Linked DNA regions of Homo sapiens: regions 1 and 3 are each linked to region 2. Evidence: fine-mapped expression QTL. A gene starts in region 2. Each other region holds a variant in brackets. All regions are shown on one strand. Distances are from middle to middle. Region 1 overlaps GABPB2 (GA binding protein transcription factor subunit beta 2). Region 2 holds the start of LYSMD1 (LysM domain containing 1). Region 3 overlaps GABPB2 (GA binding protein transcription factor subunit beta 2).

Evidence for each region. PIP is the estimated chance that this variant, and not a neighbour inherited with it, causes the effect.
Region 1: its variant is the best candidate, but not a certain one, in a credible set for the expression of LYSMD1 in whole blood (INTERVAL, PIP 0.55).
Region 3: its variant is the best candidate, but not a certain one, in a credible set for the expression of LYSMD1 in tibial artery (GTEx, PIP 0.68).

Annotation. Positions count from the first base shown.
Region 1 is chr1:151,075,022-151,079,118 of GRCh38, reverse strand. All of the region lies in intron 1 of GABPB2 (GA binding protein transcription factor subunit beta 2), which reads right to left. Among named protein-coding and RNA genes, the nearest start is that of GABPB2, 6.3 kb to the right of the region's middle. The variant C/T (reference allele first, on the strand shown) is at 2,083.
Region 2 is chr1:151,164,155-151,168,246 of GRCh38, reverse strand. It overlaps LYSMD1 (LysM domain containing 1), which reads left to right and starts at 2,345. Exons shown (of 3, transcript NM_212551.5): 1 at 2,345-3,168. The coding sequence starts at 2,989. TNFAIP8L2-SCNM1 (TNFAIP8L2-SCNM1 readthrough) reads right to left here. Exons shown (of 7, transcript NR_144937.2): 2 at 1,706-1,776; 3 at 1,225-1,313; 4 at 1,029-1,126; 5 at 833-921; 6 at 1-98. SCNM1 (sodium channel modifier 1) reads right to left here and starts at 2,103. Exons shown (of 7, transcript NM_024041.4): 1 at 2,044-2,103; 2 at 1,706-1,776; 3 at 1,225-1,313; 4 at 1,029-1,126; 5 at 833-921; 6 at 1-103. The coding sequence starts at 2,094. RefSeq lists enhancers at 2,055-2,104, 1,451-2,157, 2,125-2,404, 2,158-2,863.
Region 3 is chr1:151,123,629-151,127,725 of GRCh38, reverse strand. It overlaps GABPB2 (GA binding protein transcription factor subunit beta 2), which reads right to left. Exons shown (of 9, transcript NM_144618.3): 9 at 2,184-4,097. Among named protein-coding and RNA genes, the nearest start is that of SEMA6C, 21 kb to the left of the region's middle. The variant G/A (reference allele first, on the strand shown) is at 2,367.

The DNA.
Region 1 (4,097 bases), 89 kb after region 2:
GGGATTAGAATGTAAATAGGGTGCTATATTTACCTCCTAATATAAGAAAGATATAGAAATGCGTTCTTCAAGGCTATTTTCTCCTCCTATCCTCAGTTACTCTTTTGAGTTAACCTGAAGCATCCATCTTAAGAAAAAGTAAAATGTAGCCAGGCACAGTGGCTCACGACTGTAATCCCAGCACTTTGGGAGGCAGAGGCAGGCGGGTCACTTGAGGGCAGGAGTTGGAGACCAGCCTGGCCAACATGGTGAAATCCCGCCCCTACTAAAATACAAAATTTTACTACCCCGCCTGTACTAAAAATACAAAAATTAGCCAGGTGTGGTGGTGCACGCCTGTACTCCCAGCTACTCAGGAGGCTGAGGCAGGAGAATCACTTGAACCTGGGAGGCAGAGGTTGCAGTGAGCCAAGATTGTGCCACTGCCCTCCAGCCTGGGTAACAGAGCGAGACTGTCTCAAACAAACAAACAAACAAAAACAAAAAAAGAAAAAGTAAAATGAATTTTTTTTTCTATTTTTTTTTTGAGACGGAGTCTTGCTCTGTGGCCCAGGCTAGAGTGCAGTGGCGCGATCTCGGCTCACTGCAAGCTCCGTCTCCCGGATTCATGCCATTCTCCTGCCTCAGCCTCCTGAGTGGCTGGGACTACAGGCACCCGCCACCATGCCCGGCTAATTTTTTGGATTTTTAGTAGAAGCACGGTTTCACCGTGTTAGCCAGGATGGGCTCGATCTCCTGAACTCGTGATCCGCCCGCCTTGGCCTCCCAAAGTGCTGGGATTACAGGCGTGAGCCACCGCGCCCAGTGTAAAATGAATTTTTATTCTTACTCTTTTTTTTTTTTTTTCGAGTTGAAGTCTCACTCTGTCTCACCCAGGCTGGAGTGCAGTGGTGTGATCTCGGCTCACTGCAGCCTCCACCTCTCAGGTTCAAGCAATTCTCCTGTCTCAGCCTCCTGAGTAGCTCGGACTACAGGCTCGTGCCACCACAACTGGATAATTTTGTATTTTTAGTAGAGACAGGATTTCACCATGTTGGTCAGGCGAGGCTTGAACTCCTGACTTCAGGGGATCCACCTGCCTCAGCCTCCCAAAGTGCTGGGATTACAGGCGTGAGCCACCGTGCCCGGCCTTTATTTTTATTATTCTAAAGAAAATTATTATTTTTTGAGACTGAGTCTTGCTCTGTTGCCCAGGCTGGAGTGCAATGGTGTGATCTTGGCTCACTGCACCCTCAGCCTCCTGGGTTCAAGCGATTCTCCTGTCTCAGCCTTCTGAATAGCTAGGATTAGGTGGCACGTGCCACCATGCCCGGCTAATTTTTGTATTTTTAGTAGAGACAGGGTTTCACCATGTTGGTCAGGCTGGTCTTGAACTCCTGACCTTGTGATCCACCTGCCTCGGTTTCCCAAAGTGCTGGGATTACAGGCGTGAGCCACTGCGCCTGGCCTCTCTTTTTTTTTTAAAGCTGAGCCCAGCCATGGGTTTATACCCTCAAATACCTATGAGTGGCCGGGCGCGGCGGATCACAAGGTCAAGAGAACAAGACCATTCTGGCCAACATGGTGAAACCCTGTGTCTACTAAAAATACAAAAATTAGCTGGGCGTGGTGTTGCATGCCTGTAGTCCCAGCTACTCAGGAGGCTGAGGCAGAAGAATCACTTGAATCCGGGAGGTAGAGGCTGCAGTGAGCCGAGATTGCGCCACTGCACTCCAGCCTGGTGAGAGAGTGAGACTCCATCTCAAAAAAAAAAAAAAAAAAACCTATGAGTTGGATAAATTCCTCCCCTCCTGAGGTCCCAGGATAATGTGGGGCTCCTGGGCCTGTCAGAAAGTCAGAAAGTGACACTCTTTACTTACCACAGATCAGGAACCCTGTACAGGGACTTTAGACAAGGTATGAGGCCAGTTTTCCCAACGGGCTTTAATTGGCTTTGTAAGTCTTATGTGAGATTCCTTTTACGGAACAAAGTTCTTTCAAAGCCAATTTAAAAAGCCTATGTGAAAAATCATTATTCTTGCTGCACTTTATACAAATAATCAGACCAAGTGTAATCCCAGCACTTTGGGAGGCCCAGGAGGG[C/T]GGATCACGAGGTCAGGAGATTGAGACCATCCTGGCTAACACAGTGAAACCCCGTCTCTACTAAAAATACAAAAAATTAGCCGGGTGTGGTGGCAGGCACCTGTAGTCCCAGCTACTCGGGAGGCTGAGGCAGGAGAATGGCATGAACCCAGGAGGTGGAGCTTGCAGTGAGCCGAGATTGCGCCACTGCACTCCAGCCTGGGCGACAGAGTGAGACTCCATCTCAAAAAAAAAAAAAAAAATCAGACCAAGTTTAATAAAGCCAATCTATTTTACCATGATTTGCCTTTAGTAAAAATGGGAGACTGGCAAGGCACAGTGGCTCACACCTGTAATCCCAGCACTTTGGGAGGCTGAGGCGGGTGGATCACCTGAGGTCAGGTGTTCGAGACCAGCCTGGCCAACATGGTGAAAGCCCGTTTCTACTAAAAATACAAAAATTAGCCGGACGTGGTGGCATATGCCTGTAATCCCAGCTACTCCGGAGGCTGATGCAGGAGAATTGCTTGAACCCAGGAGGCAGAGCTTGCAGTGAACCAAGATTGTGCCACTGCACTCCAGCCTAGGTGACTGAATAAGACTCTGTCTCAAAAAATAAAAAAAATAAAAATTCTAGTCTCATCAGTTGTTTTTAAGTTTTTTTCTGCAACTTAGATTAACTCTGCTTATTCCTGTGAACCAACCAGTGATCTCTGGCTGCTGCTCACAAGAAACAAAAGGAATGGGTAATGTAAAAATCTGGATCAATATTCTAATTCTGGGCACATACTGGAATCAGCTAGTAACCCCAAATCAGCTTGGTTCCAACAGTTGCCCAGTTCATGGAAAACCTTCTTATTTAATTTACTTGGGATAGTTTTGCTTATTTTGCTTTACTGTTGAGGAGTATATTGCTGTTGTACTCTTTGTGTAGGAATGCAGGATAAGCTTACTGAATGTTTTCTTAAACTGAACACCTTTTAATCTTCCAGATATCACCTTTTGTTGGAGTTATGAATAGCTCTCACCATACTGATGCTTTCTGACTGAGCTCCTCTCTGAACCCTGAATACAAGAGACCCTAAGAGTCAGGCAGGAATATCATCGCCCCTATTCACCCTGAAAAAGTTACAGAAGATGGATCTTTATTTCTTTGTAACCCCTAGGATTAAGGGTTCTCTAATAAAAGGGATGGGAGAAATGTCAGAGGTGTTTGAACCAGAGCAACTCCATCTTGCATAGGAGTTGGGTGAAATAAGGCTGAGACCTACTGGGCTGCATTCCCATTAAGGCATTCTTTTTTTGTTTTGTTTTGTGTTTTTTTGGGTTTTTTTGGGGGGGGTTTTTTTGAGATGAAGTCTCGCTCTGTTGCCTAGGCTGGAGTCCAGTGGTGCAGTCTCAGCTCGCTGCAACTTCCGCCTCCCAGGTTGTAGCGATTCTCCTGTCCCAGTCTCCCACCTGGCTAAATTTTTTTTTTTTTTTTTTTTTTTTTTTGAGACAAAGTCTCGCTCTGTCGCCCAGGCTAGAGTGCAGTGGCACAATCTCGGCTCACTGCAAGCTCCGCCTCTTGGGTTCACGCCATTCTCCTGCCTCGGCCTCCCGAGTAGCTGGGACTACAGGCGCCCGCCACCATGCCCGGCTAATTTTTTGTATTTTTAGTAGAGATGGGGTTTCACCATGTTAGCCAGGATGGTCTCGATCTCCTGACCTCGTGATCTGCCCTCCTGGGCCTCCCAAAGTGCTGGGATTACAGGCATGAGCCACCGTGCCCGGCCAATTTTTTGTATTTTTAGTACAGATGGAGTTTCACCGTGTTAGCCAGGATGGTCTTGATCTCCTGACCTCTGCCCGCCTCAGCCTCCCAAAGAGCTGGGATTACAGGCATGAGCCACTGCGCCTGGCCCTTGTTTTGTTTTTTGAGACTGTCTCACTCTGTCGCCCAGACTGGAGTGCGGTGGCACGATCTCGGCTCGCCACAACCTCTGCCTCTAATGCTCAAGCAATTCTCCTGCCTCACCCTCCCGAGTAGCTGGAAT
Region 2 (4,092 bases):
GCCAGCCGCAGGTTCAGGTTCCCTACTGATCTTCCCACTTTGGAGTTTGACCTCTGAGGGTGGCATAGGGGAAAGGGAGACAGAGGGACCAGGGGCTTCTGGTCTAGGTAGAGAAGAATAGTCTGTAAAAGCAGTAAGGGAAAGGGCCAACTCTCCTATGACTCCCAACCTCTTAAAACAGTGCTTCTTAAACTATATTTCTCAAGATATTAATAAGTTCTGCATACAAAGGATTTCAGAATCATGAATTTGGGAAAGGCTAGCTTAAAATTTTACAAGTTTTTTTTAATCTTAAGACTTTGTATAGTTTTTAAAACTGTTATTCTTCAAGTAGAATTACAAAGTGCCATTTCCCAAACTTTATTTAAAAATCACAAAATTCTCCTTTTCTTTTTCTTTCTTTTCTTTTTTTTTTGAGATGGAGTCTCACTCTGTCACCCAGGCTGGAGTGAAGTGGTGTGACCGTGGCTCACTGCAACCTCTGTCTCCCGGATTCAAGCAATTCTCCTGCCTCAGCCTCTTGAGTAGCTGGGATTACAGGCACACACCACACACCCAGCTAATTTTTTACATTTTTGGTAGAGACAGGATTTCACCATGTTGGCCAGGCTGGTCTTGAACTCCTGACCTCAAGTGATCCACCCACCTCAGCCTCCAAAAGTGCTGGGATTACAGGCGTGAGTCACCGCGCCCAGCCAAAATTCTCCTTTTCTTGAAACACTAAGTAACATCTCCAGAACACTAGTATTCCTCAGAATACACACTGGAAAACTCTTTTAGAGCCATCTGTCTCCTTCTGAGCCTTCCTACCTCTGGCTTTCCCGTCCCATACCTGTACTTCCGGCGGCAGCAACTGTTATAGTGGGGAGCTCTGTGCAGAGCACTCTGGGTGATAAGTCGTGTCTGAGTTAGCAGAGGAGCCTGGTAAGGAGATGGGAGACAGAGTCAGAGCCTTCAGCCCTCCGCCCTTCCAGCCTGGTGTGTGCAGCAGGGTCTTGCCTAGAACACACTCTCCACTCTCTGATTACCTCAGCTTTGGTTTCTTCCCTTCTCAATTCATTCTGATGTTTTGGATTCTGCTTTCTTTCCTTTCCCGGCTGCTTCTTGCCATAGAAAAGCTGCAAGCCTGAGGAGAAAGGGAAACAGAATTAAAAGCATAGCACCAAGAGTGGTGTGCAGAGATTTCGAGGGTTTATTCCCCATCCCGTCTTCCCCCTAACTTACTGGACAGATGTTTCTTGCCTGCACGGTGGGCAGTCAGCATGGCCAGGGTGTCCAGTACCGGTCGATGGGGGCAGATGGCACAAGCAAAGCTGAGCAGGGGTAGAGAAGAGGATAAGTGGTCCAGGGGAAGAGGGTTGGGCCCGTCCCTGCCATAGGTCCCACCCTGTCCTAGCAGTCTTTGCAAAACCCAACTCCCTGGTGACCCAATCTCCACTTCTTCCAGTCCTCACTGGCCGCCAAAGAATCCTAGGTACTCCTGCTGTCCTAATTAATAACAAAAGTTTGTTGAAGCCAGGCGTGGTGGCATGCGCTTGTAAACCCAGCTAATCGCGACGCTGAGGAGGCAGGATCACTTGAGCCCTAGAGTTCGAGGGCAGCCTGGGCAGCACCGCGAGACCTCCGTCTCAAAGGAAAAAAAAAAAAAAGTCTATTGAGCCTCTAACCGCAGAACCCTCAGGCTTGAGCCACTCCTTGCTCTTACCGTCCATCCCGAAGCATCAGCGCCTCATCCTCTGGAATGTAACTGGCTAGGAGGTCCCCGACTCTTCTTTTCTGCAGGGAGTAGGGGAAGAAATCCGGACGGGATCAGCGGGATAGGAGAGAGGGGTGGAAGTGAAATTATAGAAATGAGGAGTGAAATGGAATAAGGACCCTGGGGAGAACAGCGATCATAGACCGAAAAAGGAGTCACTACACAGCTCTAAGTCGCCTGGTTCTCTCCTGCACCCCCGAGTTGTTGCCAGAGCAATGAAACAAAGCTCCTTCCCAACCTTCAGGGAGCGACTGAAGCGGCTCCAGATCCTCTCCGCTCACGCTTACTTTGAGCACATTGAGTTGACTCCAATCGTCTCCTTCCCTCTTGAAAGACATCACGACTGTGAGTCCCAGAAGTGATAAATTCTCTGTTCCGGTTTCGCCACTCCTCCAGGCCACCGTAGCAAGAGCGGGACAGCGCCTTCTCTTTTTTCCTTCTCTTCCTGTCGGCCTCCGTACTTCCGGGGACGCACTTCCACGCATGCATTGCGCGATCCGGAAATCCACTCTCTGGTGCTCGGAGGGAACTGCATTTCCTATGGTGCCCTGCGACTCCGCAGACGCGGAGCCTTTTGGGAAATGAAGTCTTTTCTCAAAGACCTTGCCGCTCAACTGGATCCAGGCCCTTGCATCTTGGCGGATCTGAGGCGTTTGGAGGGACAACAACCTAGATGTGGAGCCGAAATTTGAGGGTGTGACCTATCTTATGCGGAGCGGACCTTTGAGGATCTCTGAGTGGAAGGTGTACTACAAATTCTTGCAATCCTCACGCTCTTCGTCTGCGGCGACAGTTCACCTGGGGTGGGCCTGATTTGTTCCTGACTCTAGCAAACAAACCCCGGGACCGGGGAGAGCTGGGATGTTGGAGCGCCCTGAGGCCAGGCTACTTGGGGGCAAACTGAGGAAAGAGTGTTGAGGATTATTTCTAGAGTTCAAAGGTCAGAGGTCAATGTAGCGAGGAGTTGTGGGGGAGTCCAAAGTCGGAGGGGTGCTTAGGGGAGAATTAGGGAGGGACTGAATACTCAAGGGACAGATTTGTGGATAAGTAGCTTGGAGGGAGGAGAAACCGGGAGGGGGCAGATGGCGTAGTGCTGGGGAGGCGGGGACACAGGGGAAGAGAGAGGGGGAAAGGAATCCCCTGAATATTCATTCCCAGACTTCAGGCCTGTCAGTCGCAGTCTCGGTCGTACCTCCCCTAGTTGCAACCTTAGCTGTTGGCAGGGTGAAGAGATGGCTTCCCCGTCTAGACAGCCCCCGCCAGGGGGGTCAGGACTGCTTCAAGGGAGCCGGGCTCGTTCATATGGAAGCCTGGTGCAATCGGCCTGCTCCCCAGTGAGGGAAAGACGCCTGGAGCATCAGTTGGAGCCCGGAGACACCCTGGCTGGACTAGCACTCAAATATGGGGTGACGGTGAGTTTTCCAGGATTGGGGTGAAGACAACAGTCAGGAGGGATTTAGTCCTGAGAAGAATGTAGTGGCCCTTCTAGGTAACCTCCCCTGAAATGTTCCTAATGTGTTGCACTCTGTTCTGCCTTTATCTTTGTTTTCCCATCACAGTGTTGCACAAGTCCTGCCCTACTATTCCAACGGAGAGGAACAGCTCCTATTTTATTATGCCAGACACTGTGCTGAGGGCTTCACATACGTTAGCTCATTTCACCCTCACATCTGTATCAAGTATACATTTATCGTTCCCTTTTGGCAGATGAAGAAACTGAGACTTGGATTGGTTAACCAGTTTGGCTAAGGTCAAATAATGAGCGTCAGATTTGGGATTCAAACAGGTCTGTCTGACTCTATTAACCACACAGAAAATTTTATGTTGAGAGTGATTAAACGTTTACAGCAACTAATGGAGAGCTGATTTTTAGTTCTCAGTTCCTAAAGTGCCCACCTCTCCTTGCTCTTGGTTCCTCCTCAATGCTCTGCCTTCTTTCCAGTAAGGTGGCCTCCTTTGTGCAAAACAGGTACTCTACACCAAGTATTTCAGGTCATGCATGGGGGAAATTGGATAGATGTAAAAATGTACAGCATTGAAGTTGATGGGGTTACTCCCCCTATCCCTGCCCCTGTTTTCTTGTTCCATCTCACTCAAACAAATGTTGAATTTAGCCAACATTTTTATGCTTGCTGTATTTAAAGCACTGTGATAACTTTTCTGGGAGATAGAAACTTAAACTATATGGTTGCTGTCCTCATGTAATTTATGGCCTAATGAGAAATGAACAGGGACACAAATAATGATTACAAGTGACAGAATGTGGTGAGTTTGTAAAGGTATTAACAACGAATAGGGGTCAGGCATGGTGGCTCACCCCTGTAATCCCAGCACTT
Region 3 (4,097 bases), 41 kb after region 2:
AAAAAGAAAAAAAAAAAAGGACAATTTTTACAAGTGTGTGACTCTGCAAAGTCAACCTATTTTTACAACTATATGATGAGGATAATACTCACCTTACAAGATGGGTATTTATATGTATATGCAGAGTACCTAGCACATTGCCAGACATGTAGCAAAAGCTTAAAACATGGTGGCTATTGTTATTTATAATTTTGGGCCCTTTCCCAAACTTTCCTTTCCTTTACAGCACTACCCTTAAACTTTAGGACTGGTTATAGGAGCAGACTGCAACCCCACACTTTTGTTCAGAAGTCTCCCATAGTCTTAACTTACTCAATTACCTATCAAATGTCTTGCACAAGCCTTACACAGGTGTAGTTATCACTGGGTTGCTCCCACTTCAGCCTTCACCTGTATTTTTTACCTATTGATCTCCTTGGAGTAGAGGGTTCTTTTTTACAGAGGAAGGAAGTCTTAGGAAAGTTGCCCTAGTTCATAATTTTTCCCATTACTTAAGACTATCACCCAGCCGGGCACGGTGGCTCACACCTGTAAGCCCAGCACTTTGGGAGGCCAGTGCGGGTGGATCACCTGAGGTCAGGAGTTCAAGACCAGCCTGGCCAACATGGTGAAACCCCGTCTCTACTAAAAATACAAAAATTAGCTGAGTGTAGTGGTGCATGCCTGTAATCCCAGCTAATAGGGAAGCTGAGGCAGGAGAATCACTTGAACCTGGGAGGCAGAGGCTGCAGTGAGCCAAGATCATGCCACCGCACTCCAGCCTGGGCAACAGTGTGAGACTCTGTCTCAAAAAAAAAAAAAAAAAAAAAAGAGTATCACCCATCAGAGAACTCTAGGTTCCTATCTCTCTAGTTCCCTCCAACTTTCCCATCTTGATGATTTCTCTCACCAGGATTTAATTCAACAAGATTTTTAGTTCTTTGGTTCTTAAGGCTCCACAAGTTCCTGCTTTTTTTTCTGTCAGCACAGCCAAGACTATATATATTAATAAAGTACCTGCCAGAATTACTTTCTATTACTTGAATATGTGCACAGCATTTGCTGACTATATGTATTTACCAAAAAGAAATTATCTACATGTACCCTAGTACATGGTAGGTGTCCAATTTCCTAAATATTGACTTTGAGAACTTACTTGAGATTCCAGTCGCTGAACACAGATGCTTATATGTCCTTAGCTTTGGACAGGCTCAAAGCTAATTTTGTAAAGAAAGGTATCCTTCTTGCCAACAAAACAGCTTTTCAGAACTCTATACACTAGATAGGATACCCATCTTGCTAGTCAAATTGGTCTGTTCACCCCGGCTATCAATGGGGATTGTGCTACTATCAGACTGATCCTCCTATTTTTAAATATAAATGTGTGCTGATTTTGGACTAAGATAGCAGCAAGCACCCTATTAACCAAGAATAGCTGAGAAGCTGGCAAAGTAAATCTACTCTTTCCAAGCACTCCTGAGTCTGATGTTTTTCCCCATACGTCTCAGTATTGACTTTACTCCCACACAAGGCACATAATCATTTTCTTCAGCTACTTTTCTCCTCCCTTGGTTGTTTGCTTTTAGGGAAGGGAGTGGGGAATGAGAGAAAGAAGGAAAATGTACATTTAACAAGCTGGTCAAAAGCTCTCCTCATTCTCATTTCATTTCTTACCTCAACTTGCTCTGCCTGTCAAGAATACCAGGCTGAGAGCGGTGGATAAGGAAAAGGCAATGGCCATGCATGGGTTAGTAGATCTATACCCCTCCCCCTTCAGTTAGCTCAGTTGGACAGGGAAAATGAGCTCTGTGGTTCACCTGTCATTAGAGAATAGATACAAATTTGGCCGGGCTCGGTGGCTCACGCCTGTAATCCCAGCACTTTGGGAGGCCGAGGCGGGCGGATCACGAGGTCAGGAGATCGAGACCATCCCGGCTAAAACGGTGAAACCCCGTCTCTACTAAAAATACAAAAAAATTAGCCGGACGTAGTGGCGGGCGCCTGTAGTCCCAGCTACTTGGGAGGCTGACGCAGGAGAATGGCGTGAACCCGGGAGGCGGAGCTTGCAGTGAGCCGAGATCCCGCCACTGCACTCCAGCCTGGGCGACAGAGCGAGACTCCGTCTCAAAAAAAAAAAAAAAAAAGAGAATAGATACAAATTTTGCCCAGGAGATGAAAACAAATTCAATGACACCCTGAAATGGTCGGCTTTGACATTTTATTGAGAAACATTTTTATTTTAAATGATAGTACAAAAACTGTATATATAATATAGATCTGTATAAGTATATATACATACAAATGCTCATACACACATATACACACAAACTTGCTCATCAGAATAAAACCCTAAATAAAGAAGTATATTTAAGTTTTTCTAAAAATAC[G/A]CTGTACATAAAGCTGTCAGACAACCTGAAAAACTGAGGACATTGTGAGAACAGTCTGGGCGCATCCCCCCACACACACACCTGCCGCAGTACACACACAAATGGCCTTGACAGAAGGACAGCACATGGGGCAAGGTCAGGGAGAGAGCTGCTACCATCATTGTTGCTAGAACAAGATGTCTAAAGCCAACTAGAAAGCACAGGATATAGAAGGTGACCTAGATTAACTTTCAGAAACAAACCACCTCAGAATAAACAAAAAATATGTGGTAGGGAAGGAGGGGAACGGAGAGAGAAAAGACAAGGCCCAGAGATTAGAAATGACCTACTAACTAAATTCGAATGCCTGGGAAAGCCTCAATGAGATAGGAACAATGGAATCACAAAAGCAGAAAAGGTAGGAGGAGGGGGAGATAGGGAATCACAATTTCCTGTCACTAACATGCCAAACTGCTACTGTAGAGTCTAGGAATGTCACCTCACCCCCTAATACTAAAGAGGCTAAAAAATAAGACAAAAATTTAAAAAGGGCAGCATCAGAGACTTAAAAAAAATTGGCATAGGAAATAATAGTACTACTCAGAAGGGGTAGTACTTCTGAGATATAGTCACCACATAAAATAGAGACAGATAAGAGCCTAGAGTGCATACAGGTGGTCATCACATATAGTCCATTCTGAAGTTCCTTTTCTAGCTATCCAGAGATGGGTTTGCACAAGGAGTAGAGAAGAGGAAGCCTTCTCTAATAAATTAGGACAAAAACTGATTCCCACTCCATATTAAACTTTCAGGAAGAGTTCAGTAAATGCATCAAATTTTCCAGCTCTGGAGGTCTGTAATGATAGGAGAGAGCCACACAAGCTTTCTTAAAATGGTCATCATCATACTGGTGAGAAAAAAAAAAAAAAAAAGAGGCTGGGCGTGGTGGCTCACACCTGTAATCCCAGCACTTTGGGAGGCCAAGGAGGGTGGATCACGAGGTCAGGAGTTCGAGACCAGCCTGGCCAATATGGTGAAATCCCGTCTGTACTAAAAATACAAAAATTAGCGCGTGCCTGTAATCCCAGCTACTTCAGAGGCTGAGGCAGAAGAATCGCTTGAACCCGGGAGACAGAGGTTGCAATGAGCCAAGATCATGCCACTGCGCTCCAGCCTGGGTGACAGAGAGAGACTCTGTTTAAAAAAAAAAAAAGAAAAGAAAAAAGAAAAAAAAATCATTTCTCAAACTGATATTTCTTTTTTTCCTTTTTCTTTCTTTTTTTTTTTTTTGTGAGCCACCGCGCCCGGCCTCTTTTTTTTTTTTTTTTTTCTCACCAGTATGATGATGCGCCACCACCCCCGGCTAATTTTTGTATTTTTAGTAGAGACTGAGTTTCACCACGCTGGCCTGGCCTCAAGTGATCCTCCCATCTCGGCCTCCCAAAGTGCTGGGATTACAGGCGTGAGCCACCATGTCTGGCCAGCAGCTTTACTTATTTTATTTTATTTTATTTTATTTTATTTTTTGAGACCGAGTCTCATTCTGTTGCCCAGGCGATCTGTTGCAGTGGGGCGATCTCAGCTCACTGCAAGCTCTGCCTCCTGGGTTCACGTCATTCTCCTGCCTCAGCCTCCCGAGTAGCTGGGACTACAGGCACCCACCACCACGCCCGGCTAATTTTTTGTATTTTTAGTAGGGCCAGGGTTTCACTGTGTTAGCCAGGATGGTCTCAATCTCCTGACCTCGTGATC